5 separate regions of the Homo sapiens genome follow, and regions 1, 2, 3 and 5 are each linked to region 4. Evidence: fine-mapped expression QTL. A gene starts in region 4. Each other region holds a variant in brackets. All regions are shown on one strand. Distances are from middle to middle.

Evidence for each region. PIP is the estimated chance that this variant, and not a neighbour inherited with it, causes the effect.
Region 1: its variant is fine-mapped to the expression of CYB5D1 in whole blood (TOPMed, PIP above 0.99).
Region 2: its variant is fine-mapped to the expression of CYB5D1 in whole blood (TOPMed, PIP 0.96).
Region 3: its variant is fine-mapped to the expression of CYB5D1 in whole blood (TOPMed, PIP above 0.99).
Region 5: its variant is fine-mapped to the expression of CYB5D1 in whole blood (TOPMed, PIP above 0.99).

What each region holds. Positions count from the first base shown.
Region 1 is chr17:7,877,568-7,884,037 of GRCh38, reverse strand. It overlaps a transcript of NAA38 not described here. Among named protein-coding and RNA genes, the nearest start is that of CHD3, 8.0 kb to the left of the region's middle. The variant CAG/G (reference allele first, on the strand shown) is at 3,375.
Region 2 is chr17:7,793,505-7,798,504 of GRCh38, reverse strand. It overlaps DNAH2 (dynein axonemal heavy chain 2), which reads right to left. Exons shown (of 86, transcript NM_020877.5): 49 at 4,147-4,251; 50 at 1,853-2,041; 51 at 1,244-1,329; 52 at 975-1,105; 53 at 676-825; 54 at 181-348. Among named protein-coding and RNA genes, the nearest start is that of KDM6B, 38 kb to the left of the region's middle. The variant G/A (reference allele first, on the strand shown) is at 2,694.
Region 3 is chr17:7,885,706-7,891,031 of GRCh38, reverse strand. CHD3 (chromodomain helicase DNA binding protein 3) reads right to left here and starts at 2,243. Exons shown (of 40, transcript NM_001005273.3): 1 at 1,932-2,243; 2 at 1,256-1,368; 3 at 291-461; 4 at 1-92. The coding sequence starts at 2,031. RefSeq lists enhancers at 1,242-1,811, 5,131-5,180 and a silencer at 3,221-3,380. The variant C/G (reference allele first, on the strand shown) is at 1,885.
Region 4 is chr17:7,855,261-7,861,456 of GRCh38, reverse strand. CYB5D1 (cytochrome b5 domain containing 1) reads right to left here and starts at 3,454. Exons shown (of 4, transcript NM_144607.6): 1 at 3,163-3,454; 2 at 2,978-3,054; 3 at 2,633-2,851; 4 at 1-2,075. The coding sequence starts at 3,322. The coding sequence ends at 1,845. TMEM88 (transmembrane protein 88) reads right to left here. Exons shown (of 2, transcript NM_203411.2): 1 at 6,173-6,196; 2 at 5,358-6,012. The coding sequence ends at 5,743. NAA38 (N-alpha-acetyltransferase 38, NatC auxiliary subunit) reads left to right here and starts at 3,898. Exons shown (of 3, transcript NM_001320925.4): 1 at 3,898-4,074; 2 at 4,259-4,442; 3 at 4,614-4,772. The coding sequence starts at 3,994. The coding sequence ends at 4,726. RefSeq lists enhancers at 2,477-3,338, 3,144-3,363, 3,692-3,986, 3,714-4,083, 3,339-4,201 and 2 more.
Region 5 is chr17:7,916,546-7,923,015 of GRCh38, reverse strand. It overlaps KCNAB3 (potassium voltage-gated channel subfamily A regulatory beta subunit 3), which reads left to right. Exons shown (of 14, transcript NM_004732.4): 14 at 1-1,157. Among named protein-coding and RNA genes, the nearest start is that of RNF227, 3.5 kb to the right of the region's middle. The variant G/A (reference allele first, on the strand shown) is at 2,868.

The sequences.
Region 1 (6,470 bases), 22 kb before region 4:
AATGGCTGCTGTGACTAACTCCCCCCTTATAAAAAATATTTGAGGGGGGGCATTAATCAGTACTCATGCTCAGTCTGACATCAGCATAAATTGTTAAAGGTTAACTAGTTAGATACTAGTCCAACTAGATTTAATTTTTTTTATTTTCTTTACTAGTCTCTTCCTCCCCACCTCCCTTCTCTAAAGAAAAGCTTTTTTTTTTTTGAATACTTCAGAAGGGAGTGGTTTGATGTGAAGGTTTTTTTCCCCTTCAGGCATTGAAAAGGAAAAAGATGAAATATATGTTTATATATAACTCTGTTTCTACATACCTCATTGAAGTCACAACGCATTTAATTGTGTACATATCTTTTAAATGAGAAGCGGGACTGGATTTTTTTCTGCTTTCTTTAAAAAAAGTGATAGAAATCCTAGTGACTTTTGGGGGAGAGATATGAATAGATACGATGATTGAGTTTTTTTCAAAGGAGTCCATGTTTGATTCTCCCCTTTACCCAGCCTTTTCAGTGATTTATAATTGTTATAAATTTTATCTTTACTCTTTTCCCCTTTCCCTCGCTTTCCCCTCCTCCAATTGTTAGAATGTAAAATTCAACTGACTTGAGAAATTAATTTGGGGGGTAAACAACAAATTTTTAGGATAAAGAGGAAAGAGTCAAATCTGAAGATCGTGAAATTATGTTCTCTTTTCTTCCGTTTCAGTATATTTGCCTTCCCTCCATGATCTCCAACACTATCCGATAAAGTAGAAGCAACTGAGGTACCGTGAAAGAGAAAGGAGCTGGAACTGAGAAAAAGCAGAGGTAGGGGTTATACCCAGGCGTTTTCATCTAACTTTCTGACCTGTGATTTCCAACTGTACCCCAGTGTTTATGGTAAAGTGGTACCAGGAATTGGACAGTTGGAAAGGAGTCCCAAAGTAGCTTTCTCATACAGAGATTTGCCCAGAGAGGTCTAGACAGAAAATGATCCTTGCCAAATGGAGCAAAGGAAGGAGGGCAAATAGCTCAGTTCTACCCTCTTTCATTCTTGTTGACCCTTTCTTACTCTAGCTTCCTCCCATTCCTTTGATCTCCCTTTGCCCCTTCCCTTGCTTCCCATTCCATGCCTGTGGAATCATTTCTCTCTGGGTTATTCCTCTACCTCTCCAGTGTAACTGCTGGCCACCCATCTTCGGCGGTGCTCAGGAGCACCCTGAGAGGGAGGGGTAGGTGGGCAGCAACCAGAAAGTATTAGTGACTGGGAAGATGACGCACATTTTTGTTTATGAAGCTAAAATGTTCTTTATTAATGTTCCACTCCCCACACTAATGCACTTTATTGGGTGTTGGTTTCCATCTCTTTTTTTTTTAACCTGGCCTTTGGAATTCTCTTGCTTTGGTTCCCACATCATTTCTGTACTAAGTCTAACTCCTCCTCCTTTTCCAGTTTTCCTGTCGATTTTGCTCTCTTGTCTTCTTTCTCTGTCCCTCTTTACTAGTTCATCTGGTTATCCCCCCCTTTCTATATTGTGGGCTTCTCTCTATTTATGTCTTTGTTTTTAACTGAGACTATCCTTCTCATCCCTTGGACCCTCAGGCTCTGTCACCTCTACGTGACTTTCCATCTCTGTCTTCTTTCTGCTTACTTCTGTCTTCCAGTCTCTGACTGTGTGTGGCTCTTCCTCATGTGTGCCTGACTCCCCCTCTTTCTGGCCCCTTCTGTGTGTGTCTGTGGATCATACTGTGTATGGGAAGTGTCTCCACGTGTATGTGGGCCACACTGCGCATCATGTGCGCCGCAGCCTCTCTGCCTCTGTGCCCTCTCCCTATACTGAGAGCCTCTGCTTGCCACATGTGCCATGATCTGCAGGTGCGGGTGGCTAAAGGTGGCCGTGTGCATCCCTATACAAACACTCATCATTCTCTCTCTTGAGTGTGCTTTGCATGTGGATTTGCTAATTTGCCTTATTCTCCCTCTCATCCATCCTCCCTTTTGCCTGTCTGCATCTCTTTCTGTTCTCTCTCTCTCTCTCCTGACCTCTTGATTTTTCTTCTTCTCTCCTTATTTCTGCCTCTTTACCTGCTTGCTCCTGTTATGGTGTCTGCCTGCCTGCCTGTCTGCTCCTCCCTGACTGGCTGGCAGCCTCTTTTTCCTCTCTGGTTGTCTGTCTGCTTCTCTGGCTGTTTGCCCACCACTCTCTCTCTAGCCATCTGTCTCCCCGCCTGCCTGTCTCTATCACTTTTTTAGCCTGCATCTCTCGGTTTGTCTACCTTCCAGGCCCTGCCACGGCTCCCCATCTTGGTTTGCCTCTTCTCTTGCCCTTCTGCTTGTTCCTTCTCTTATTTGTGCCTGTTAAGTTCCTCCTTTTCCCTTGCCTCCCTTTAGATCTCTCTTGCCTGTCTACCCTGTTTGCTGCTATCCCACCGTTTCAGGCTTTTCTCTCTTTAGTCTTCATACTTACCAGCTTTTTCTTCCTTTGCTTCTTCTCTGCCAACTTCCATCAATGAGGATAGTCTCTCTCCCCTAAACCTCTCAGTAACCCCTTTGCCTCAAAGTCTTATCTAACTTCTTGCCACATCCCCTACCCTGCCTTCTCTCACGTTTGCCTTTATTTCAGTTATCTCTTTTTCTGTCTTTCTGGTTCCTCAGACAGTCTGCCTGTCTCAGTCTTTTTGCCATTTTCCCAGTCTCTCGCTGCCTTCCTGCCTTTTTGCTGTCTGCTTGGCAGGCTCTTGCTGTCCACGTCTCTTCTTGCTTTTCTCTCTTCTTTTGTTTCTTTTTCCAGTTAACTTCTAAATAGGTAGTACATACTTATGGTACAACATTTTAAAAGTACAGAAAGTGTACTGTGAAAAGTAAACCTGTCTCCCATCCTTCTCCCCTAGTCCCGGAGTTCCTCTCCTCAGAAGCAGCCACTGTTTCACATTTCCTGGATACTGCTCCAGAGAAAAGTCTACACATATACAAGTCTTTTTGCTTGCTTGCTTTTGCTTGTGTTTTGCTGTACTCCTCCCTACTTTTCTTCCAGTTTTTCTGGATGCTCCTTCCTCTGTCAGTCTGTCAGTACTCCTAACTAACTTGGCTGGGCTTGCCATCTCTGGTCTTTTTGATTCTACCAAGTGTTACCCAAAGCACGTGTCTTTTGGATTGACTAGTTACTGGTTGCATGCGTTCACTACCAGTACTTGAGGAGTGCTCAGGAAGGCTTTACTCTCTCCAAATGTAGTCTACTCTGCATGGTAAGTGGTCTGATGCCAGCAAGACATCTTTGTTGGTCGCTTCATCACTGAAATGTGTATTGGAGAAGGCATGAAAGCACCGGTAGTACTAAAAAGTACCCTATAAATATAGGCACTGTTAATAAGTAACAGTAAGCTGAGCTTACATGCACA[CAG/G]AGTAGGTAGAGGACTGCCCTGCTTTCTCACTTAGTCTATATGAATTCTGTAAGGTCATGTGAATCCAGATCCTTTAGGTTGTCGACCTAGGCCTAAGAAGTTTGTCTTCCTCCTAGTCTAAAAAGCTTTCTCCTGATTAAAGCCTTCTGGCTCCACTCACATGCCACCTTAGAGACATTTTATAACTCTTTGAAGGAGACAAAGACACAACCTCTAACCAGGTCTCTTTGAAAAAGATGATAATAAAACTTCTACACACAATGCACTGTTCTTTCATTTCTGCTTTTTTACTGCCTGTTTTCCTGAGTTTAACTGTTTCAGCCTCTATCTTTGTGTCTCTCCACTCTTTCCCTCTTTCCCTCTCTTACTTCTCTTTTCTTGGTTCTTTCTTCTTATCTGTCTGTCTTGATCTCTATTCTAGCCTCTTTTTCTGATTGGCCCTCTCCCCTCTCTTCTGTCTGATTGGCCTGTATCCTTCCATCACCCCATCTGTCTGCTGGATTCTCCCTGTCTGCCTGCAGTAATGTATGTGATAGCACTTTATAAATTATAAAGCACTATGTTGTATAAAACACCATTATCACTTTGTCTTCCTTCTTACCTTATTTTTTCTTCCTTTATCTGTCTTCCCTTCTTCTCTCTTTCTCTCTCTCTCTGTTTGCCTGTCTGCATCCCTTTTGGTGATTTTGCCTGCCTTCTCTGTCAGTCAATCTCCATTCCCTCCCTGCCAGCCTATTTTTCTGCCATCCCTCTTCTCTGTCTGCTCAGTTCTTGCATCTCTCCTTCTGTGTTTCCAGGTTTCTCTATATTTCTTTTGCCTGTGTAGTCTCTCTGTCGTTAGGCCTTTTATCTATGCCTGTGTGTCTCACTGTCTAGCTGCTTGTCTCCCTGCCTGTCACTTTCATTGTGGGGCATCAGTCTCTGCCTTCTTCTGTCTTTCAGTACTTCAAAAAATAAAAATTAAATAAAAAATTTAAATTCCTTATGATTAATGGGTACAGGAGAATATTTTTTTTGTTTTAATGAGAAGACTATTAAGGTGAGAACAAAGAACTCAAATATTCAGCTGTGAAATGCAAATGAAGAAAAATTTTTAAGGGACTCTCAAGCCAAGAATAAGATTATTTAACGCAAAAGCAAGAAACATATCTAAAGCAATAATTTCTAACCTTTTAGGATCGTAGAAAGTTAGAAACTTTCTCCAGAAAAAAAAAATACACACAAAATGTCACATATGTTTTCACGGTGTTACGAATACCCTGAAGTCTTGGACCCCAGGTTAAAACTCTGATGTAGGGAACCAGTGATAATCAGTGATAGAGCACAGACATGTACTCATACAACAAGCAGAGTAAAAGACTGAAAAAACACTTGCAATCTATGATTTTCTACCCAAGGATATGTTAAAGAGATTCCTAATTGTCTTTTGAAATATGTAGGTCAGTGATAATAATGAAAGGCATGTAAATACTCAGGATAGTCTAGACCTAATCATAGTATTTTAGAGATGGAAGGTCTTATAAATCAGTGGTTCTCAAATGGCTAAGAAAGGTTGCCACATGTCCTTTACTGGAAAAGTCTGTCCTTTATTCTGAGAGGATATATTTCTGATATATATTTTTACATAGAATAAATATAGTATACAGTATATTTATATAGGATAAATATATGTATATATGCTTATATTTTATGTTATAAATTATGTTACATATTATTAAACATATATACACATATACATATTTATAATGTTAAAAACTTCCTTTCTAAAGCTGAGATAGATCTGTATGGCAGAATGTGAGTAGATTTTAGTGGGGAAGGGGGAGGAAAAGAATAAGAAAATGACTTTTTATACTTACTGTACAATCTGAAAATTTTCAACATGTACTTCTTTTATAATTATACAACATTTTAAATAATTTTAAATATCTTTTTATGAGACGTAGTTTCATCCTTGTTGCCCAGACTGTAGTGCAATGGCGCGATCTCAGCTCACTGCAACCTCTGCCTCCCGGGTTTCAGCCATTCTCCTGCCTCAGCCTCCCGAGTAGCTGGGATTACAGGCGCGTGCCACCACCACACCCGGCTAATTTTTTGGATTTCTAGCAGAGGCGGGGTTTTACCATGTTGGCCAGGCTGGTCTCGAGCTCCTGACCTCAGGTGATCCACCTGCCTCGGCCTCCCACAGTGCTGAGATTATGAATTTTGTTGTTCTTAATGTCCTTACTCAGCACAATGAAAAGTCAGCAACCCCATGTTGATCACTAACTTTTTTTTTTTTTACATTTTATTGATCATTAAAATCTAAAAGTCTAGGATTTACTGCTTTAATCTAACCTGTTCTTGATTTTATCAAGGAGGAAACTTCAGTCCTTCATATATCATATTCATGATTTGCCATATCTATATATCAGCTATACCATTATATGCATACTATTTTTCTTTAAATCACTCACCTTTCTTTAACTTAAATGAATGTTCTTTAAAAGGTAAATTTTATATTGCTAGAAATAATATTCATAAGTCTTTAATTTGATACTGTAATTATGTTTTTCTTTCTAATTTAAAATGCAATATTGTTAAAATAAAAATCAATAAAAGTAAAAGCATCTTGCATGCTACTAATAATATAGGTACATATTTTAGAAAATATCACTTTAATCTAATTTTATAGGTATAGAAACTGGGGCCTAGATATTGAAAGGATTACCTAAGATCAAGTTAGTAGTTAGAGACAGAACCAGGACTTGAACTTTTATCTTTCGGTTTCCAATCTAGTGTTCTTCTACTATATACTACATGAGTTTTAAGTCAATGAGATGTCCTAGAGTTTTAAAGGACACTAATATGTGAAACTGATGGTCACATATATTACTGTTATTAACTATAACAACTATGCCACAAAACTAGCAAGGCCAATTTAATAGTATGTGTTATACTTATAAACTTAGTGTTTTTTGACACAGAGTTCCACTTCTCACCATTTATTATAGAGAAACAGTCACCATACTTATGCATAGGGTGACATTACAGAGCTATTCATTACAACACTGTTTGTAACAGCAAAAAACTGGAAACACCCTAAATCTCCAACAG
Region 2 (5,000 bases), 62 kb after region 4:
TTGATTCCTTTTCTGAGATTTAGGAACCCTCCCCGCCCCGCAGCATACACGCGACACCATCCTACACCCAACACGGGCCAGACACGTCTGCCCATCTGGCTGCCATCTCTCCTCTCTTGTCACTGCAGGAATGTATGCATCTGATCTTTTATTCCTAGCATTTCAGAAACCCAGCCGTACCATCTCGGAACTCCTGCTTCCGATAATGTTTGGTGACCTCGATCTGGAAGGTGGTGTAGTCGCAGATGGATGAAGCCAGGCGGGCCAGACTCTGGCGTCCGCTGCCCCCGATACCCACCAGGAGCATGTTGCCCCGAGGCTGTCCAATGACCCGCACGATCCGTGTGACTGGGGGTGGGGTGGGTGTGAGGGTAATGAGTTGGCTGAGCAAACTCAGGGGACCTCCAGGCCCTAGGCTAGGGATTGGGGCCCCTGAAACTGAAGCAGAGGAACCAAGAGGTATGAGAAGAAGTTGGTGCCCAAGGCCCAGGAGGCAATTCAACTTTTAACCTCCACCTTCTCTGTTAAACACACACTGCCACAGGGCATCTGGGGCCAGGGAGAAAGGCAGCTTCTGGAACTTGATTTGGGAGACCTGGGAAGGGACCCCTATTTCCTTAGACATACCCCATCACTGAGATGATGGGGAAGGGGATAGGCGTGGCAGGTGCTCACTGTGTTCAATAGCCTCTCGGAAGAGCACTAGCTGCATGGGCACGACAGAGGGTGACAGGTTATACTCATTTAGAGCTGTCTCCATGACTGTCTTCAGCACTGTCAGATCCGTGAGGTCTTCATACACCTTGGGCTCCTTCAGGAAATCCCCTGAGCCATGGGAAGAGGGGATCAGAGTCACAAATGCCTGGTTTGCCTCCCCCCACAGGGCTCCACACTTCAGACCCCATGCCCTGACTCCTTCTAGCCCCGATGTTCTAAGAGTGTCAAGCCCAAGGTCATCACAGCTCCTGGCTCACCAAAGATAGGAGGACGCTTGCTGGGACAGAGATGATGAAATGTGAGGTCAAAGAAGGAGCCGAGCTTGTCGCTTATGATGCCCATGAAGGCTTCTGTGTCTGCCGCATCAACCAGCCGGTCAGAGAAGACTCTGTGGGCAGGGAACTGGGGTGAGATCGGGGAATAAAGAGGAGAATGGCCTGGGGAAGGCAGTGTCAGGCTGGGAACAAAGTAGGGGTGGGAGCAAGGCTGAGGAAGCCTTCGTTTGGCCAGGGCACATGCATGTCACCTGAAACATTCATGGATCCAGAGCCGTGTGATGCTGGACTTGGTATCATGGAAGTCCTTGTTGGCTCTAAGCATGCCCTGGAACACCTGGGAAGAGGACTGACTGTTGGGACCAGGGAGCAAAAAGATTCCCTCCAGAAGTTTTTTTTTTTTTTTTTTTTGGGACAGAGTCTCACTCTGTCTCCAAGGCTGGACTGCAGTGGTGCAATCTCAGCTCACTGCAACCTCTGCCTCCCAGGTTCAAGCAATTCTCCTGCCTCAGCCTCCCATGTAGCTGGGACTACAGGCGCGTGCCACCATGCCCAGCTAATTTTTTTTTTTTTTTTTGTATTTTTAATAGAGACAGGATTTCACCATGTTGGCCAGGCTGGTCTTGAACTCCTAACCTCAGGTGATCTGCCTGCGTTGGCCTCCCAAAGTGCTGGAATTACAGGTGTGAGCCACCGCACTTGGCCCAGAAGTTTTAAAGGTAAGGCCAGGGAGTGTGGCACTTCAGCATGGGGGTGACTTTTGGTGCGCATGCTAGTGAGTGTTAAGGCTTAGTTTGAGAAGAGAAAGCCTCCGCGGAGGCTGGGCCAAGCAGAAGGGGCAAGGTCAGGCCGCGAGTCACCTTGGAGATGTCTCGAAGGTTGAAGAGGTAATGCATCTTGGTGGGCGTGGGCAGGAAGCGCTGTACCACGGTGTTGTACATGTCCAGGGTGGCCTCTGTCACCACGTTCCCAATGGGCTTCACCTCTTCCTCAAAGTCCTGAAGCTTCTGATTGATCATGGTGCCGAATATGCGGATGATCTGGGACTTCTAGAAACAGACCCTGGCTCACTCTCCAGGGCTGCTGGCCTTCTAGCCAGAGGGGAAGCCAATAAAGAGCTTGGCTCATGGGCACAATTTAAGGGGGTGTCAAAAAAAATCCTAGGGCCGGGCACGGTGGCTCATGCCTGTAATCCCAGTACTTTGGGAGGCCAAGGCGGGCAGATCACTTGAGGTCGGGAGTTCGAGACCAGCCTGACCAACATGGAGAAACTCCGTCTTTACTAAAAAATATAAAATTAGCCGGGCGTGGTGGCACATGCCTCTAATCCCAGCTACTTGGGAGGCTGAGGCAGGAGAATCACTTGACCCCAGGAGGCGGAGGTTGCGGTGAGCCAACATCGTGCCACTGCACTCCAGCTTGGGCAATGAGTGAAACTCTGTCTCAAAAAAAAAAAAAAAAAAAAAATCCTAAACTCAGAAATAAGACAACTGACAAATACTATTATATAACACTATATATATATATACTATATATTTATACATATTTATATTTATTTATTTATTTATTTATACTGCAACTTCCGCCTCCCGGGTTCAAGCAATTCTCTGCCTGATCCTCCCAAGTAGCTGGGATTACAGGTGTCCACCACCACGCCCAGCTAATTTTTTGTATTTTTAGTAGAGACAGGGTTTCTCCATG[G/A]TGGTCAGGCTGATCTCAAACTCCCAATCTCAGGTGATCCACCTGCTTTGGCCTCCCAAAGTGCTGGGATTACAGGCGAGAGCTACTGCGCCCAGCCTTAACACTATATATATATGTATATAAAATAAATATATATATATAAATATTATATATATATATATTCAAGCTGGTGTCCAATGGTGCAATCATGGTTCACTGCAGGCTCGACCTCCTGGGCTCAAGCAATCCTCCCACCTCAGCCTCTCAAGTAGCTGGGAACACAGGTGTGCACCACCACACCCGGCTAATTTTTGTATTTTTTTGTAGAGACAGGGTTTCCCCGTGTTGCTCAGGCTGATATCAAACTCCTGGGCTCGAGTGATCCACCTGCCTCAGCCTACTAAGGTACTGGGATTACAGCTGGGAGCCACCGTGCCTGGCCAACACAGTATTTAAAAACAAAAATGAATGCAAAATATTCATGAGGAACAAACACAAACATTTAAAATAAAGACCAGATGGGGATTACTGATTTCTCCTTTCCCCTTAGGCTCCAATATGGCTTAGCACTGTACTCTACTGATTTTGTATTTATTCAAAATGGTGGTATTTTGCTCATCATAAATTATTGGCATTAATTTTAATTTTAAAAAATATTGCATTACTACAGACTCGCCAGTACTAGTGGCCAAGCCTCAATACCTTCCCTGTTCCCCTGGGATCCCTTGGCCCCACATACTTCTCCAGTTCTCCTTCCCACTCCATAGGATCAATAAAATGTCATAGACAGGAAAAAAAAAAGTGAGGCCAAGTGTGGTGGGAGGCTGAGGTTGGTGGATCTCTGGAGTCCAGGAGTTTGAGACCAGACTGGGCAACATGACGAAACTCTGTCTCTATTGAAAATACAAGAATTAGCTGGGCGTGGTGGCGGGCGCCTGTAGTCCCAGCTACTCTGGAGGCTGAGGCAGGAGAATCACTTGAACCCGGGAAGTGGAGGTTGCAGTGAGCTGAGATCATGCCACTGCATTCCAGCCTGGGCAACAGAGTGAGACCCTGTCTCAAAAAAAAAAAAAAAAAAAAGGAAGTGTTAACATATTATTTCTCCTGATTACAGAGTCTTTTGGGTGCCCCCTTAAATTCTGCACTGAGACAAGTGACTTGCTGGCCTGGCTCTAATCCTGACACTGCCGTGGGCTTTGTAGGATCTACCTTCCTTAGTCTACTTGGGCTTCACTGTGTTCTCTGCCCATTGGGACTACAAGGCTTCCTTGTCCACAGCCAGGAAGGTACGCTTCCAACCCGTAGCTCTCCTAGCTCAGGAGCCAGCACATGCCCTTACGGATCGTCCCAGCGTCCTGCGTGGAGCTCCACTTGGGGTGCCGCAGCCCCCTGGGATCTGGCCCCTGCTTCTCTGAGACAGACACGTTTCACCTCCTACCCTCCCCTCGTCCTGCAGCCCCCATGAGGTCCTCACTGTGGGGAAGGTCATGTTGATAATGTTGAAGCGACTCCGTAGCCTTGGGGAGATGACAGTCCGTCCACCCCCAGGGGGGCCCATGGCAGCCATCAGGAACATTTCCTAGAGAGCAGCGACAAGGAGGGCAGACAGGCAGGAGGGGAGAGGGCAAGAGAGGCGCCGACACAGGCCAGGTGAAAAGGAGTGGGAGGAAAACAGTGCGAGGAGGGACAAAGGGGAAGAGGAACCGGGATGCAGCGAGTTGAGAGGAACATGGAGTGGTAGGGCAGGGGGAGGGGAAGAGAAGGAAGGGACATGGGAAACTTATTTTAGTACCAGGAATGCATTTGTCTGTATTTCATCCTTATAATCCATGTACCCAAATGAGAAAATACAGGTAAGTAAAAAAACATTTGTGTCTTCTAGACTTTCTCTTTCTTCTTTTTCTCTTTTTCTTCTTTTAAAATTGTACCTATCTATACACGTGTGTGTGTATGTTCTCTCTCAAACACACATGAATATAGCACTAGGCGAGTTTTTGGCCCTGAGTGCCAGATATACACACAAACAACCCCAGGAGCCAGGCCGCGATGGCCGCTGATTAAAGAGAAGCAGCCGGGAGCATGGCTCAGGCCTGTAATGCCAACACTTTGGGAGGCCAAGATGGGAGGATCTCTTGAGCCCAGGAGTTCAAAACCAGCCTGGCCAACATATGGGGACCTTGTGTCCACTAAAAATCATAAAATTAACCCGGCACCCCAGCCTTGGCAACATAGCAAGATGCTGTCTGAAAGAAAGAAAAAAAGAAAGAAAGAAAGAGAAAGAAAGAGAAGAAAGAAAAAGAAAGAAAGAGAAAGAGAAGAAAGAAAGAA
Region 3 (5,326 bases), 30 kb before region 4:
AGCGTGTGGTAATCCTCCTCAGAGAACACATGCTCCACATCCTCCAGGCCCCAGGTCAGAAGCAGAGTTGCTGATGACTTCTGTTCCACTTGCTGCGGGAGAGGGGCTTTGGTGAAGTAGGTGCTCCTCCAGCCCCTATTCCAGGCCGCACACAGGCCTGTCTACCTACCCACTAGCTTCCCTGGGCTTTCTTGCTTCTTGCCCCATTCTCCAGTCCAGTCTCCATTCCTCCCCTCCTCATGCCCGTCTTTAATGCAGATTTCTCACTCTCATTCCCTAATTCTACTCACCTTTTGCCCCCCATCTCCCTCCCCCTTTTTCCGCCGCTTTGTCTTCTTCTCCTTTTTTTCTCGGTGCTTCCTTCTTCGTTTCCGACCCGGTCCGGTTCCATATTCACTGCCCCCACTCTCTGACTTCTCCCGGTACTCATCTCGCTCAGAACCAAATTCCTCCTCACTGTCCTAAGAGAAAGAAATAAAAATAACATTTATTCATCCCTACCATTGCCAGAAACTGTTCTCAGCACATACCATATCTTACCTCTTTTAATCTTCACAACAATCCTGTGATAGTAACTAATTTTTTATCTCCTTTTTTTTTTTGGAGATGGAGTCTTGCTCTGTCACCCATGCTGGAGTGCACTGACGTGATCTCGGCTCACTGCAACCTCCACCTCCCGGGTTCAAGCGATTCTCCTGCCTCAGCCTCCTGTGTAGCTGGGATTACAGACGTACCACCGCGCCCGGCTGATTTTTGTATTTTTAGTAGAGACGGAGTTTCACCACATTGGCCAGGCTTGTCGCGAACTCCTGACCTCAAATGATCTACCCGGCTCAGCCTCCCAAAGTGCTGGGATTACAGGCGTGAGCCACTGCAACCGGCCTTTATCTACTTTTTACAGATGAGGAAACTAAGGCACAGAGAGCCAAATAAACGGCCTGGTATCCTAGACAGAGGAATGCTGGACTCTTGAATTCATACAGTCTTCCAGAGCTTGTGCTTTCAACTGCTTCTCTTTGCTGCTGAGGACACACTGACAACGAGGCTCTTCACTAGGTTGCAGTGAATGAAGTTAGGGTCCCAGATCCCTGAGATACAGGCCAACAGTGGCAGGGAAGTGGGGGGCCCGGGGGATCAAGCCTCCCTGGCTTCAGAACCCCACCCCCACACCAGTAATCAGGACCAGAGAAAATGTAGGTCTCTGAGAATGGGTCTCTTGAGCCTTGCCACAGAGTTAGGAATTCTTGACACTTACACGCTTCTTGCGTTTTCGGGGTTTTCCTGGCTTGTTCTCCTTCTGCTTCTTGGGTCCTCGTTTTCTCTTCTTCACACCCAATGCTGACGGCAGCAGCCGAATGTCATCCTTATCTTTGAAGCAAAAAGCATCAGAAAACCTAAGCCTCTAGGTTTCCAGCCTCTGAGGCCCCTCAACTTGCCCCTTCCCCACCTCGGCAGTTCCCACTCTCTAGGAAGCATTAACTCCTCCAAGCCCTGCCTCCCTTCACTGGATGCAAACAGAAAGTGTTTCGAGTACTCTGGGATGCTCTGGTTCTGAATGGGAGGTCAGGGGTCAGAAGAGAAGAGCAGCCAAACCACTCCCCTCCCTCCCCTCCTACTAACAAGAGACCAGGCTCCAGGCCATGGGCTCTGACTGTGGCAGGTCCTTTCAGTCACCGCCAGGGCTCCTCCTGCCTTCCCCCTCACTTCGCCAGCTGGCATCCTGCCCAGGAACTGGGGAAGCCATGCCCAGCTGCTGGCCTGGCCTGACCCCAGCACTTGGAGTGGGGAGACACAAGCTGGCAGCTCCCTAAGCCAGATGCTGGGGAGGGAGAGCCAAAGGTGGACACCTGGGTTCTCACACTAACACCCTGGGGCCCTGACATC[C/G]TTTTGCCAAGAGGGAGGCCTCTATTTACATTTCCTCGGATAATTACCAGGCATCCTGTCACCCCAACACAGTCCTGGAGGAAAAGAAATCCTCAGCTGGTCATTTTTACTTCTTGCCCACAGGATCACAGTGTCTGCCGCCTTCATCACACAGGAGAAAGTCTCCACAATTACCTAAATATTCCTCCTCCCAAGTAGCCTAAAACCTACCTTCAATTCTATTCCCATCTCCCTGCTCCCTTTGGGAACTAGGGGGCCATACCCTTTGTTTCCCGATCTCACCCTTCACCTCCATATTTTGTTCCAGATATCCTGACCCATTCATCTATACGCAGTATGGGAGACCCAAACAAAGATATAGGCACAGACAGACACACCCAGCATATGCCTTCTCAAAAGCACGCGCGCGCACGCGCGCACCCACACCCACACACACTCTCAGGCCCACAAATCCAGAGGATGGCCTGTACCTGCTTCAGCAGGGATAGGTCCCTGGCTTTCTCCCCAGATGTCTCTGCCAGAGGACCCCAGGCCCCCCACCCCATTATCTGTGAAGGTGTCACTCTGTGAAGGCTTGGGGAACGGAACGGAGAGTTACCCCACATAAAGGAAGACAGGATGCCCCACAGACCTGGGGCCCTGGGGCTCTGGTTCACGTCCCTCCCCTACCAAGCACTAGACTAACCAGCCAGACCTGTCTAGTACAGAGAGAGGCAGCCGATGCAAGATGGGAAAGCCTGGGCTTGGCCCAGCCCCTAGCTCTAGGACACACAATCCTTTCTCCTTCCCTCAACAGCCAACGGAAAATTAGCCACAATTAACACCAGAGGCCTCCGTTTCCACTGCCTCAGAGTCGCTGCCTCGCCTTCCTTCAGTGCCACCTTTCCTGCTAACTCCAGCATCCTGTGTCCCCTTGTGCAGGAAGACACTCTAGGACTGTGTGCGTGTGTGCAGGGGGGTGGCTGCCAGAGCCCGGGTGTGAAACGGAATGGGGACTGTAATAGGAAGTCAGCAAGGAAGGCGCCATGCCCCAGCAGCCGGCTCCCCCTGGCCCCAGGGACTTCGGTTGACTTGAACATGGAAACGCAGGCTGCCGAGGCAGTGGCAAGGGCAGGCCAACTGGCTAAGGTTCAGGGACACGGCCTCGGCCACCACCAGCCAGGGGTGGTGCACAAGCCGGTTCACTCTACTCCCCACCCCAGCGGGAGGTTCCCGAACTTGGGCAGGCGTCGGTGGCGGGAGAGGCAAAGCGAGAACGGCAAGGAAAAGCAAGGAAGGGTAATAAAGCAAATCTAAGTCCCAACCTCGGTCTCAGCAGCCACTCAATGCTGGCCTGGAGCCCAGACTCTCCCACATCCCCGGCTCGGATCTCAGGGAGGCAGGGAGGAGAGAGGCGGGGGCCGGAGGGCGCAGGGCGGAGCCTGGCCGCCCGAGCAAGCGGGAGGAGTCTCGGCCGAAGCCTCGCCTCCCGCCCGCCCCTCTCTTCTTCTAATCTCACCATCAATCTCTCACACATATATTTATTTTTTCTCAAATTCCCCTCCCTCCCCCACAACGCACCACCATAATAGGTCTGCTGCACATGCGTACTGCAGGCAGGGGGTGGGTTTGTATTTTCAGACCTTTTGCAAAGAAACTACCAGAATTTTCCGCACCACCCACAATCATTCCCCACCCCCACCCCCAAGGAATCACATCTATATATTATGTTATATTATTTCTCTCGACTTGCCAGAAGGGGGAGGGAGAAGAAATGAGTTTTTGGCTTCCTGCTCCCTTCCCCCACCAACACGACTGCTATTATTTTAAACGTTTAACAATGTAAGGAGACTGGAGAGAGGGGGAAGGGATAAAATTGGTCTTGAGTAAGAATGTAAAACAAAATGGTGAGAATCAAAGCAGTCGGAATGGAAAACAATGGAAATCTCTCCTGTGCACAAATGCATACTCTAGACAAGGAAGAGCGAGGGCAGCCTGAACAAATTTCCTTAGAGGAGGGTTCTTTTCCCCACACTTAGGTAGACAGAAATAATGAGTGTGCTAAAAATAATTTCCCGAAGTTTTACCTCCGAAAGTCATCTGAGGGGGTGTATCTGGGTCACTCATTCGACTTGGAGGGCTGAAAGGGAGATAAAAATTGCCCAGGGGGAGAGGGGAGGTGGGTTTTCATTTCAGTTGTAAAATGTAAGCAGCCTCTGACGTCTCTTCTGGTCTATTCAGAAAGCCAAGAGGGAAAGGGGAGGCCGGGTTGACACAAAGACCCATCTCAACCTCGGATCCTTTCACGCTTCTCTCCCCAACGTACCCAGATCCGGGACCCACACCACCCCACCCCAGACTCCAAGTCCCAATACAAATAGGTGAGCGCTGCCAAGCCCCTGGCAGGACCTGACGGCCTTTCTTTCCCTCTTTTCAGCGCCTCTGCCGGAGGCAACCCCAAAGGCACCCTCTCCCCACAACTCCTCATTCCTCCTCCTCCTGCCAAGGCAGGGGGCTCTCTGGGAGAACTTTTTCAAAACTTTACCCTTTTTCAGACAAGCTTGGGGGGCGGGGAGACTTTATCCAGTTTCCAGGAGACACACATCCCTCCCCGACCCACAAGAAAGCACCCCCCGCTCCCCCAAAGGTCGTCTCGGCTAGACAGGAACGTTTGCCACAGAAGCCACACGGATCAATATGACAGTTTTACAAAGAGCCCGGAGTTGGCCGTTTTGAAGTTTGGTGCATTTGTGCCGCATGGCAGCCAGAGGCCCGGGGGTGCGGAGGTCCCCCTGCTGTTCCCCAAGCAGGGGGTGTGGACACCCAGATGCTCACCTATCCCAAAGAAGACTAGAAATCACTCCACTAGGAGGGTGGTCTGAGGGGGACACCGCTGGGCGCCTGACGCGGCGCAGCGGTCTGGAGAGCGCCGCCCAGAGAGTGCCGCCGGGTGACTTGTCACCTCGGGGGACGGGTGCTGAGTGATGGTCAAGCTGCAGAACAGCTGGGTGGGCAGTTCACGCCCCCCAACGTGCTCAGGGAGTGGGTGGTTTCAGCGAGAGAGTGAGTGACAGTGAATGGCAGCCACGTGAGAGTCACAGCTGGGCAGCTTGGCCACCCCAGACTGACGGGGTCAAGAGGGGGACCCCCCCCACCGCACTTGACACAAAAGAGCCCAGAGCCCCGGCGAGATGAAGGGGGTGGAGCCGGGGGTATCTGGTTCCCCAGACACTCTTCTCTCCGCTCCCCAATCCGAATGGACTGCTGTCCCTGCACAGGCTGGGGGAGCGAGGGGACGAGCTCCTGCCTTATTCCAGGAAGTGGTCTGCGTGGACTGTGGCCACCACCTGCCCCTACTCATCAGCAGCCCACAAACATTCACAAGACCCCTCCCTCGCGTGCCACCGCATGCCCCTCAGTTGGCGGGCACCTAAGTCTCCGCGGGTGGAGGGGGGTCCGATGG
Region 4 (6,196 bases):
GGTACACATAATTGCAGAGTTGATTAAAGATCAAAATGATCGATTTAGATAATTCATGGACTCCTGCATTCCATGGGGTTAGATTTAAACCCTCCATCTCACAGTAAATTCAGATACTGCCGAAGCCAACAGCAATGTTTCCACCTTTGTTCATGCCTCCCAAAGCCCCTCAGAAAATGCCTATATAGCCCACCAGTATCTCACAGGGGCCACCTTCTCCTGTGCTGGGCCCTGGTGTCCCCTGCCAGAAGACACACTAAACTCTTCCTGATTTGTTTTTTGCTTGCTGCTGCCAGGAAGTTCAACTGTCTGTCATTCTCAAATCTCCCCTCCTTAAGTTAAAGGAGACCAAATCTAGCCATTACCCCCAATAGTGGTTCTCTTTTGGTCACCAGGAGAGTTTTCTGACTTAGTTAGCATCTCTGTTTACATTACCCCTGTCGAGCTCCCTCTTTTGGAGTCACCGTCTTGCAACCCTGTCTTCCTCATCTTCTCCAAGTGGCAAACTGCCTCCTTTTTCTCCCTCGCCAAAGTGTCACTAATTTGCCGGCCTTTTCCCCACTCTAGTTTTCCTTCAAGTTAGTAAATACCCACCTCTTTGCCCCAAAAGGTCAGGAGAGAAATCTGGGGTATGGGATTAACAAAGAAGTAGCCCCAATAGCTATTGCTTAACTGACACTTAGCCTTCCTTGCCTCCTCTTCGCCACAGGAGAACTCTGCAAACTCCCTTCCAGAGACAATAACTGCAAACTATACAATAGGACCACAATTTCCTATTGTGCAGGGATCCTAGGACAAAGCCACATCCCAAATACTTGCTGAGAGCAGTGGCTACAAATGTTAACATGAGATTAGACATTGAGATGGTCCCTTTATATTGAGAGAACATGGACTTTGGAGTTGGGCAGACTTGAATTTGCATTCTGGCTCTAGTGGTTACTACCTAGTGTGGCTTTGAGCTATTAAACTTTCCAAAGTTTCGAAGGACTTATCTGTAACATAGTAATGGTAATCCACCTTATGGGGTAGTTGTCTTGAAGAGGCTATTTGGGAGGCTGAGGCAAGAGGATCACTTGAGGCCAGGAGGTTGAAACCAGCCTGGGCAACACAGCGAGACCCTGTGTCTACAAAAAATTAAAAAATTAGGCATTGTGGCGTGCACCTGAAGTCCCAGCTACTCAAGGCAGAGATGGGAGGATCACTTGTGCCCAGGAGCTCCAGGCTGCAGTGAGCCATGATTTTGCCACTGCACTCCAGACTGGGTGACAGAGCAAGACCCCTTCTCTTTGTTGGGGGCAAAAAAAAAAAAGAGGGTATATGAAGTACCTAGTATAATATCTAGCCTGAATTGCCTATAATGACGCACTTCCTTTCTTTCCCTTGGGTTTCAGCTGCCAAACACTCTTCTACAAGTAAGATAAGCCAGCTTTGTATGGTCAATGATAAACATTTCCTATTTCTTTGTAAATCCCATCTTCCTGCAGACATCTCATTTCCATCATTGCCAAAAAAGTCCTTCCATCCCTCACCCCTGTAGAACTACTCTCTCTTAACTATCAAACAGTTCTGCCTGAACTCTGACTATCCTCTTCTACATCTCCCTAAACCAAGGTACTTGATCTTCTTGTATCATTCCCAAAGATTAATTCACTAATTTTCTCAGAGCAAACTGTAATGAAGGCAGGGAATAGGGCCTTTACACTTCAGAAGGGCACAGGCTAGCTCCTGGAGAGGAGTGGAGATCTGGGTCCAGGCACCCCTCGGCCCCACCACTTTTCCTCAAGGCACAGAAAAAGCCAAACTCGAAATACGTCTTGAGTCTACACGAGTGTACATCTCCTTGCCTACAACTCCGTGAGATCATCATTGAAGTACAGAAGTATTGCAGGTGTGTGAAGTGTACCGTCCATACTGAGATAGTCAAATTCTTCCTCCTCATCCCGGATCCCATTCTCTTCCAGGGTAAAATCCATGTTCAGGTTCTTCCCTTCATATTTCCACGTGTAGCTGGCAGCATGTGAGTTATAGGGGAGATAGCGGTGTAGGATTTCCCATATGGACTCCAGAACCCCCACCTGGAGAACACAGAAGCACCCCACCCCCAGAATTCTGGATGGAGTATACATATACACACGCTGGGATCAAAGTGCCTCCCTTGGCAGATAGCAGCTTCAGGTACTCTACGGCCCCGGGAAAAAAAAGCTGAAACTCCAGCATGCAATGAGCAGACCCTAAAGTCCTACAGATCTTAATGGCAGCCACTTCTAACTACCGGATGGCCATAAAGGGTCAACTGTCCCCTCACTATATCCATGCAACAGAGTAGATTAAAAAGAAAGTCCAATTGCTGTCCAAAACGGCGTGTAAGAGCTTCGAAGGACCACCATCACTAAGATACATGAACTGCTGTTCCCAGGCTTATAAAGGAGTCTCTTGTCCCCCTGTGACCCAGACACTCCTAGAATTCCCAACCCTGGGGACCTAGGTGCTGTGCTTTCCTCAGTTGCCTCAATGTAAAGGACAGAAAATACACTCCCACCGGTTATGGAAAAAATGTTGCCCTGAAGATCGGCCTGGAGATTTGCTGGGATTCCCCATTCCTTCTAACCTGCTCCTTGTCACCAGTTCTCACCTCCAGTGTGTGCTCCTGCGACGTGAGCGTGTTAATGATGCGGATGCTCCGGGTCTTGGCAGACAGCCGCCCCACCTCATAATACGACCCCTGCCACCAGGGCTTCCCAAAATCGTTGGCCCAGTCCGAACAGGGCAGCTGAGGCGGAACGTGCACAAAGCGGCCCCGCGGGGTGCAGTACCTCAGGCAGCCGGTCAGCGGATCTATGTGCTTGCGGATCTTTAAAGGAGGGTTTGGGGCGAGGGTGTCAGAGCAGCCATTAGGCTCTGGCTAGCCTCCGCCTTTCCTTCCCATCCCCGCTCTCCATTTCCTCTACCCACAATCCCAGGTTCCAGCATAACTCACGTCTCTGGTCTTTGGATCAAACCAGTGGCTGATATCCTGGCCTGCAACTTCCACGATGGGTTTCAGCAGCAGGTTCCCTTGAAAAGAGCAGCACAGCCACTGTCAATGCCAGCCCTTCGAGAACCAGGCAAACGCGCGCGTGCACACACACACACTCCGGCCCCGGCCCAACGTGTGGCCCTTACCCTTGTATTCCTGTGCCAATGACGTTAGGTCGTACACGCGTCCCAGGTAAGATACCCAGAGGTCTTCGGGCCTGTTATGTTGGGCCACCTCCGCCGGCGTGAAATAGCGACGCTGAAAATACTCCAAGTCTGGCCCAGCCACCAGGCCCCGGCGCGGCATGGCTCTTGCTCTGTCGGTCACTGGATCTCTTGGTTACTCCTTTGCTCCTCAGCACGTACTCACTACTACTACGACCTCCGTCGCGTCCGGGAGCCGAGGGGAGAGCGTTTATCCGCTGACATGGAAACCATTGTCCTTTTCCGGCCACCGTCCACTGAGATAAATATCAGGGGCGGGGTTTGGACTGCACGTGTTCACGGGAAACGTAGTATGAGTCCCGCGTGGGGCATATAAGGATCAAGTAATTGAGTTGCGCCGCTTTCAGGAGTTGCGGGGTGGGGCAGAGAACGAATACGCTCCGTTTTAATTCAGTGGCCTGGGCTACATGGGATATTTAGGACAGACTATCTCTCTGAGACAGAAAAACAAGGGAGGAGGCAGTATGAAAGAATGTATTCTCGCTAAATTCCAGTTTCTAAAGGATGTGTAAGAAACCAGAGGTAAAGGTCTCGCGATATCTTAAGACATCCGGCGTAGTACGCTTCAGTGAGCCACAGCGCTAGAGAAGTAGGAGAAGCTCGCGAGATCTGTGCCGTTGCCGAGGAGACTAGGAGGGGGAGGAGAGGGGATCTCGCGAAAGGAAAGAGGTCGGGAGCGCTCGCGAGATCTCGGACCACCCAACCTGAAAGGTGCTTAGGAAGTTGAAAGGCCCAGAGGAGGCCTCCGGGCAAATGGCCGGAGCTGGACCGACCATGCTGCTACGAGAAGAGAATGGCTGTTGCAGTCGGCGTCAGAGCAGCTCCAGTGCTGGGGTTAGCACGGGCTCTGGTTCTGGGACTGAGGGGCAGTCAAGCAGCAAGATGGAGGGGGTGGGGAACTGCAGCTCCCGGCAGCCTCTGGGCTTTGTGTGAGTGCCCCGCGGGCTGCCGGGAGCTGTGGTTCCGCGGGCGGGCAGCCTGGGCTGCGCGGTCTGAGCGCTTGTTACACCCCGCGCAGGATTCGGACGGAGAGCGCGAGGACTCGGCGGCTGAGCGCGCCCGACAGCAGCTAGAGGCGCTGCTCAACAAGACTATGCGCATTCGCATGACAGATGGACGGACACTGGTCGGCTGCTTCCTCTGCACTGACCGTGACTGCAATGTCATCCTGGGCTCGGCGCAGGAGTTCCTCAAGCCGTCGGGTCAGTGCCCGGGGAATGCACACCCGCCTGGTAATGTGGCGGAACCTTACGCAAGGCATTTCCCCTTAAGGGCCTGGCTGCAACCCTTGTTTTCTGGGGCTCGTTTTCGTGGCTCAGAGGGGCGGGACTGATTCTGGCCTACTTTCCTGATGCTCTGATCCTTCTTTCCAGATTCCTTCTCTGCCGGGGAGCCCCGTGTGCTGGGCCTGGCCATGGTACCCGGACACCACATCGTTTCCATTGAGGTGCAGAGGGAGAGTCTGACCGGGCCTCCGTATCTCTGACCACGATGGCGCTTACCTTTCAGACTTCATTAAACTTATGACCGAATGGGCCTGTGTCTGTGTGTAGCTGGGATGCCGGTGCAGGATAGCACACCCCATCCCTAGAGGAAAGGGCTCATCTGAAGTCGGGAGCACCCTCAACCCTCCTCTCCCAACCAAGATGTCCAGGGGTGCCAAAGGTTCTCTCAAGTTCAGGGGTAGAGATGGGGGGCAGGGCTGAATGACGGACCAACAGGCCCCAGGGTGGGCCCCTGCATCTTCCCTCCCACGGCTGCTGCTCCAGAATTGTGGCGGGAGGGGGTGTCATCCTGCTCCGGAAGGCCCATTGTTTCCCACCCCGGCCTGGCAACACCGAGTTCCTCTAAGCTGGGGTCAGAGAACGGGCTCAGGTCCCCAAGGGGAGCAGCGGCAGGCGGCCGAGGCTGGGCCCCTCCACTCTATTGAGGGGGAGGTGCCTGGGGTCAGGAACAGATCTCTGAGGTCTGGCCAGGAAGAACGGACAAAAGCGATAAGGCCAGGGGGCTCAAGGATGCTCCTCTCTGCTCATTTGTAGCCCTGGCACATGTTTCCTGTTCCTCGGCACAGGGCAGGGGTGATAGTACTTGTGCCACGCCTCTGTTCGCAGAGCGCGTTCAGTTCGTTAAATCTTTATTGATGCGTGGACACTCCTTCCCCTCCAGCCCCGCCCCCCAGCCCCAGAAATACTAGAGAAGCTGCACCATAAAACGAGGGCACGAGATTGTTGTCCCATTCACGACGGAGCTGAGGGGGAGGTGTGCAGGTTCCAGCCTAGATGTTCAGGATTGAGATGTGGGTCGTGAAAGGAAAGTGGGTTTTCCGGGATGTGGGGGCTTTTCTCAGCACTGGGTCCACTGACGCTGCTGCTCCCAAGGGGATGCTAGGACTCCGCTCAGGCAGGGGTGGGGGCAGGGCAGGTCGGAAGATGCCGGGCTTCAAGTCCTTGGGCCGAATAAGAGGGAGGGCAGCCGTCAGGGTTGTTCTTGACTCGAGGGTCATTAGACCCAGACCTTTCCTGATGTGGGAACGGCCTGGGACCCTGGTGAGGCCCGGATTTGCCGCGGCTGCGGGGCGCGCCGACGCCGATAAAGGGCTCGGCTGTAGGGCACGAGGCAATCGGCTAGGCGGAGGCGCAGGCAGAGGCGGCGGTAGCTGGCCAGAGCAAGCACGAGCAGCGGCACGAGGAGCAGGAATCCGGTGACCAGTAGGGCCGTGAAACCGGGGTCCCGCAGGTGCGCGGTGCAAGGGGGTGCCTGGGAGCGCAGGAACTGTGGGAGAAGAGGCGTCAGGCCCAAGCCGACCAGGCGATACTGTGCACGGGGTGGAAACAGCCCAGGCGGGTTGAAGTTGTGGCCCATAGACCCCACCGCCAGCATCACCACACACCAACACTCACACTCACACGCACACCCCGGGGCGCACGCTCACCTGAGAGTGGCAGAGGAAGCCGAA
Region 5 (6,470 bases), 61 kb before region 4:
CTCCACGCAGCGGCCGGAGCCAGACTAGCCCCGCCCACCAACGAGTCCCGGCTTCGAGTAGTGATACGCATGAACAAAGCCATATCCTTTTGCAGTGGGGTCGAGAGAGAAAGTAGCACGCCCGCCCCCTGCTGCGTCTTTCTAGGCCCTTCTTGCAAATCCCGGGCATGAGCTACTCGCCGTCGGCTCTCTGCCACTTCGTCTCGCTCCCTACTCTCCTCCCCTTATTCCCGAGGCCCAGAAAAGAAAACAAAAACAAAAACCCAGCACATACAAGAAACATACAGTGTACCTCAAAAGGGGCCCTTGAAATGTCATCAAAGGGTAATAACCTAGTGAGTGAGTTGTGATGTCATCTGGAACATAGGAAATGGGGCTCTTAGCGTATTCGGTACGAAGGAAGCCAGGCTGGTCCTGGCAGGAAGTAAATGATAATCTTTGGGAAACCAGGACCCTGCCTCCCAGCCCAGAGGTGGAGGAGGGCGGTCAGGGTGGGGTCTACAGTGGCACAGCACTGACAAAGGTAGAGGGAAATGTAATAGCACATCTACGCTGCAGTCTGGTGAAAGTGGCCGGGGTGGTCCTTGGAAAACAGTTGGGCTGTTCTTGGCAGGAATTAGTGACAGCCTTTCCGTCACGGGCAGGGACGCCTTGATTTAAAAAAAATAAATAAATAAAACGTCTGGGTATAGACTTTTGAGCCTTGAGCAGGGCCTCCTACCTGGCAGTGGGGAACTGCAGTCTTCCTCCTGGCAATAAACCTAAAGCAATAATGATGGCCCCTTCTCTGTAAGACTTCCCAGGTAACTGTAAATAAACCTCAGCTTGATCCTCACAGTGTCTAAAGTTGCAGGGGCTTGGGAGGTTAGGGTCACAGTCTCACTTGTCTGGCCCTCTCGCCCCCTAACATTAGAAATCTGCTAGCATTAGCTTTCTCTCCATTGCTCATTCACCTTGGTGACCCAGGCATCGGGCTCCTAGTCACTGTTCTCATCAAGGACCAAGACACCAGATACCCCAGGCCCCAGTTTTCTTCCTTCAGCTACCACATTCCTTAGAACCCAGAAATCTGGCTTCATAATTTTGTTCCTCCTCTTTCTATGAAAGACTTAGCTATCTGCCTTTATTTGTTTGTATTTAAAGTAATATTAGCCATACTTGTTCCTTGTACTTCTCATTTCTCTCTCGCTGGACACCCACACATATGCCAAGGAACCTGTGGCTGAGGGGGAGATGCTGTTCTGAGGTTGAGGCTTTGTGATTTGGTGGAGAGGTAAAGTGAAGAATGGTCTGAGGTTGAGGGAATACAGAGAGAAGGAAAGATGTTATCATTTCACTGGAACAGAATTGGGTGGAAAGTTACAACCTTAAAGATCACAAGGTAGAGGAGGATGAGCTCTGCCTTCCTTAAATACAACCTGCCCATCTCCCTTCTACCCGTCCTCATCCCGCCTTGATCCAAAAGCTGGGCAAGCAAAGTAAAACCAATTTCCAAAAGAGAAAAGTCAGCAGCATGCCATTTACTGGATTAGCAGCCAACTGCATCAACTAATTAATACTTAAATCCACCCCATCATCTCCCACTCATTTTGCAAGACTGTGGAGGAAACAAAGAAGTAAAATATATTACTAAACTATGATTAGTTATTCTGTAACATACGAGAATTTATCAATCCCAAATAGGATTCTCCTTAAATAGTTATCTTAGAGGGTTATACACTTATTTTAATGAACCTGTCCCATTGCTCAAAATATTAAAAACAAACAAACACCATTCCTCCTAGAATTACCTTCAGAGAGAGTTTGGAAACGCCTTGATTTAAAAAAAAAAAAACAAAAAAAAAAGCCTTCCTTTATTGTCACGCCTCCTTTGTATATGGACATTTGCCATATTTATCACCCACCTCATTCATTAATTTAGCAAGTATTTGTCTATTGAGTCCTATTATGGTATAGCACAGGGATACAAGGGTGAACAAAACCAGACTCAGAACCTTCATATATCTTGCTGAGGAGAGAGACAATCACAGAACCACCAAATAAATACAAACTTCTTGTCCAAAGTCCAGAGGAAAGCACATGGTATTACTGAGTCTGTAGTGGTTATTTGACATGGTGAGGTTACGCTGAGAGCTGAAGCATGAATAGGTGTTAATAAGGGTTAAGCAAGAGGGTTAAGAGCATATGCTAAGGCCTGTGGCAGAAAAGAACATACAAGCCAAAAGTACCCAAAGCCAGAGTGTCTAGAGAGGAACAGAACAGAAAGTGAGACATGGGTAATGGCTGGGTGCGGTGGCTCACGCCTGTAATCCCAGTACTTTGGGAGGCTGAGGCTGGTGGATCACTTGAGGTCAGGAGTTTGAGACCAGCCTGGCCAACATGGCGAAAACCTATCTCTACTAAAAATAAAAAATAAAAATAAAAATAAAAATTAGCCAGGCATGGTGACACCCACCTGTAGTCCCAGCTACTCAGAAGGCTGAGGCAGGAGAATCACTTGAGCCCAGGAGGCAGAGGTTGCAATGAGCTGAGATTGCACCACTGCATTCCAGCCTGGGCGACGGAGCAAGACTCTGTCTGGAAGGAAGGAAGGAAGGAAGGGGTAAGTTCAGAACACACAGGGACTTACAGGGCACATTACAATGTTATATTTATCTAGGCTGGGCGCAGTGGCTCACACCTGTAATCCAAGCACTTTGGGAGGCCAAGGCAGGTGGGATCACTTGAGCCCAGGGGTTCAAGACCAGCCTGGACAACATGGGGAGACCCCATCTCTACAAAAATACAAGAATTAGCTGAGCATGGTAGCTCATACCTGTGTAGTCCCAGCTACTCGGAGCCTGAGGTAGGTAGGTGGCTTGAGTCTG[G/A]GAGATCAAGGCTGTAGTGAGCCAAGATTATGCCACTACACTCCAGCCTGATGCTCAGAGCAAGCTCCTGTCTCAAAAAATATATTTATCATACAGGGAAAAAAAAACAGTAGGAAACCCTCTATATCCGTTATCTATTGATACACAACAAATCACCACCAAAGTTAATGGCCTGAGATAACTTTTTATTTATTTTTATTTTATTTTATTTGAGATGGAGTCTCGCTCTGTCACTCAGGCTGGAGTACAGTTGCATGATCTCAGCTCATTGCAACCTCCCTCTCCCGGGTTCAAGCGATTCTCCTGCCTCACCCTCCTGAGTAGCTGGGACTACAGGCGAGTGCCACCATGCTCAACTAATTTTTTGTATTTTTAGTAGAGACAGGGTTTCACCATCTTGGCCAGGCTGGTCTTGAACTCCTGGTGATCCACCTGCCTCGGCCTCCCAAAGTGCTGGGATTACAGGCGTGAGCCACCACACCCAGCCACTATTTATTTATTTATTTATTTATTTATTTATTTAGAGATGGAGTCTCGCTCTGTCGCCAGACTGGAGTGCAGTGGCGATCTTGGCTCACTGCAACCTCCGACTCCCTAGTTCAAGCGATTCTCCTGCCTCAGCCTCCCCAGTAGCTGGGATTACAGATACGTGCCACCACGCCCAGCTAATTTTTGTTTTTTTAGTAGAGACGGGATTTCACCTTGTTGTCCAGGAGGGTCTTGATCTCCTGATCTTGTGATCTGCCTGCCTCAGCCTCCCAAAGTGCTGGGATTACAGGCGTGAGCCACCGCGCCCAGCCACTTTTTATTTATTTTTAAGAGGCGGGGGTCTCGCTCTGTCACCCAGGCTGGAGTGCACTGACATGATCACGGCTCAGTGCAGCTTCGAAGTCCTGAGGCTCAAGTGATCCTCCCACCTCAGCCTACTGAGTAGCTGGGACGATGTGCACCACTGAGCCTGGCTTTTTTCTTTTTTTTTGTAATGATGGGGTCTCACCACGATTCCCAGGCTGATCTCAAATTCCCGAGCTCAAGTTATCCTTCCATCTTGGCCTCCCATAGTGCTAGGATTACAGGTGTGAGCCACCACACTCAGTAGAAATAACTTTTAAAAACTGTTCTTTTTCACGATTCTATGGGCTTGCTGGGAGTTCCTTTGCTGTTTTCACCTAGGCTCACTCACGTGGCTGCACTCAAATGGCAGGTGAGCCAAGCAGGAAAATGCAAAATGGCCTCACCAGCATGTCTGGTTGTTGGCTGGCGCTCCTCCGTGTGGCCTCATCCTCACATGGTGGTCTCAGGGAGTGTTCCAAGGGGACAAAAGCAGAAGCTACAAGGCCTCTGAAGGACTAGGTTCCAGAACTCACACATCACTTCTGCCACATCTATTGGTCAAAACTAGTTACAAGACCAGCCCAGATTCAAGGGATAGAGAAAGAGACCCCAATTCTTGATGTGAGATGCAGCAAAGTCACATTGCAAAGGAATTTGGGGCCACCATTAATCTACCACCACATTAAAAGCTTTTTTTTTTTTTTTTGAGATAGAGTCTCACCCTGTCGCCCAGGCTGCAGTACACTGGCACGATCTCAGCTCACTGCAATCTCTGTCTCCTGGGTTCAAGCAATTCTCCCACCTCAGCCTCCTGAGTAGCTGGGACTACAGGTGCACGCCGCCACGCCCAGCTAATTTTTTGTATTTTAGTAGAGACAGGGTTTCCCTGTGTTGCCCAGGCTGGTCGTGAACTCCTAAGCTTAGGCAATCTGCCCGTCTCTGCCTCCCAAAGTGCTGGGATTACAGGCGTAAGCCACCACACTCGGCCCATCATGTATTTATTAACAATAGATACCTACCAGTTCCCCCTTTTTTTTTTTTTTTTGAGACCGAGTCTCATTCTGTTGCTCAGTCTGGAGTGCAGTGGCGTGATCTCGGCTCACTGCAACCTCCACCTCCCAGGTTCAAGCAATTCTCGTGCCTCAGCCTCCCAAATAGCTGGGACTACAGGTGTGAGCCACCACCCCCGGCTAATTTTTGTATTTTTAGTAGAGATGGGGTTTCACCATTTGGCCAGGCTGGTCTTGAACTCCTGACCTCAAGTGATCCACCCACCTCGGCCTCCCAAAATGCTGGGATTACAGGCAAGAGCCACCATGCCTGGCCCTACCAGTCCTTTTTTAAGACCAAAAAGTTTTGAATTGTGACAGCATCACTGTAATAAGTAGACAGCTTCTCCCATGATCACAGACAATACCATTCAAAAGTTCTGAAATGTTTGCTTAAAAATGATGGTATACCTCCTCAAAAGAGATTACCCTCTAGGTTTTAACAATTTAGGTTTAAAAACCAGCTTTGCATTGCCTGTGATAGCTGGTAAATGCCATGGGTGTGGAGAAGCTCATCATGCACATATTGGTCAAGATGGATGGGTGTTGAAAATGTTGGGTACTGGCCGGGCGCGGTGGCTCACGCCTGTAATCCCAGCACTTTGAGAGGCCGAGGCGGGCGGATCACCAGGTCAGGAGATCGAGACCATCCTGGCTAACACATTGAAACCCCGTCTCTACTAAAAATACAAAAAATTAGCTGGGCGTGGTGGTGGGCGCCTGTAGTCCCAGCTACTCGGGAGGCTGAGGCAGGAGAATGGCATGAACCCGGGAGGCGGAGCTTGCAGTGAGCCGAGATGGTGCCACTGCACTCCAGCCTGGGCAACCCAGCAAGACTCCGTCTCAAAAAAAAAAAAAAAAGAAAAAAAAGAAAATGTTGGGTACTCAGAAGTTAATGTGAATTCAGTATAGGCTGGGGGCACAGGATAACAATAGTAGCTAATATAGTACTTACCTGGTGTTTTACTGTGTACTGGACACCATTTGAAGCACCTTACACATATAAGTTCATTCAGTCCTCATTATTATTATCCACATTTTTAAAACTAGGAAACCAAGGCCCAGAGAAATTAAGTAACTTGCTCAAAGTGTCACAACTAGTAAGAGGTGGAAGCTAGGATCTGAACTCAAGCCAGCTGGCTCTAGACTGTGTTATCACCCTCCATAACAGAACCTGGGCTGCAGGTCCAGGAGAGGAGGGTGAGGAGGCAGCTGTGTGTGGGTGTGGCACCATGAGGGGAATGTGGGTTGTGAGTACCATGTCCTGTTTACCAGTGGGAGAAGTCAGACCCCTGAGTCAGAACTTATGCTGGGGAGCTTTGCTGGGGCCATCACGATGTGTGGGTGTCCAGGCCTCCGGAAGGAAAGGATTCCCAGCATTCCTAAAGCCATGGTCCTGGCATCTAGGTCCCTCCTTAGGCTGAGATACCAGCTGAGAGTTAAGCAGTTTGGGGAGAATGAAGTTTAGGAAGCCAGCCTTACAAACAACACAGAGAGGTCATCTATAATGAGAATTGAGGGCAAAATCGATTCAAAGGCCCAGGGACCACTAAAGGTTGGGCAGAACGGGCCGTGTTTGGAAACTGGGTGGGATTGTGAAACTAACTGCGAGCAACTGAATAGGCGGAGGGGGCTTTAGAGACTTGTGCCAGTGACTGAGGGCTCAGGCGCAGAGAGAGACCCGGGGCTTTGTACATGGTAGAATTAAGGAGCGCTGGCG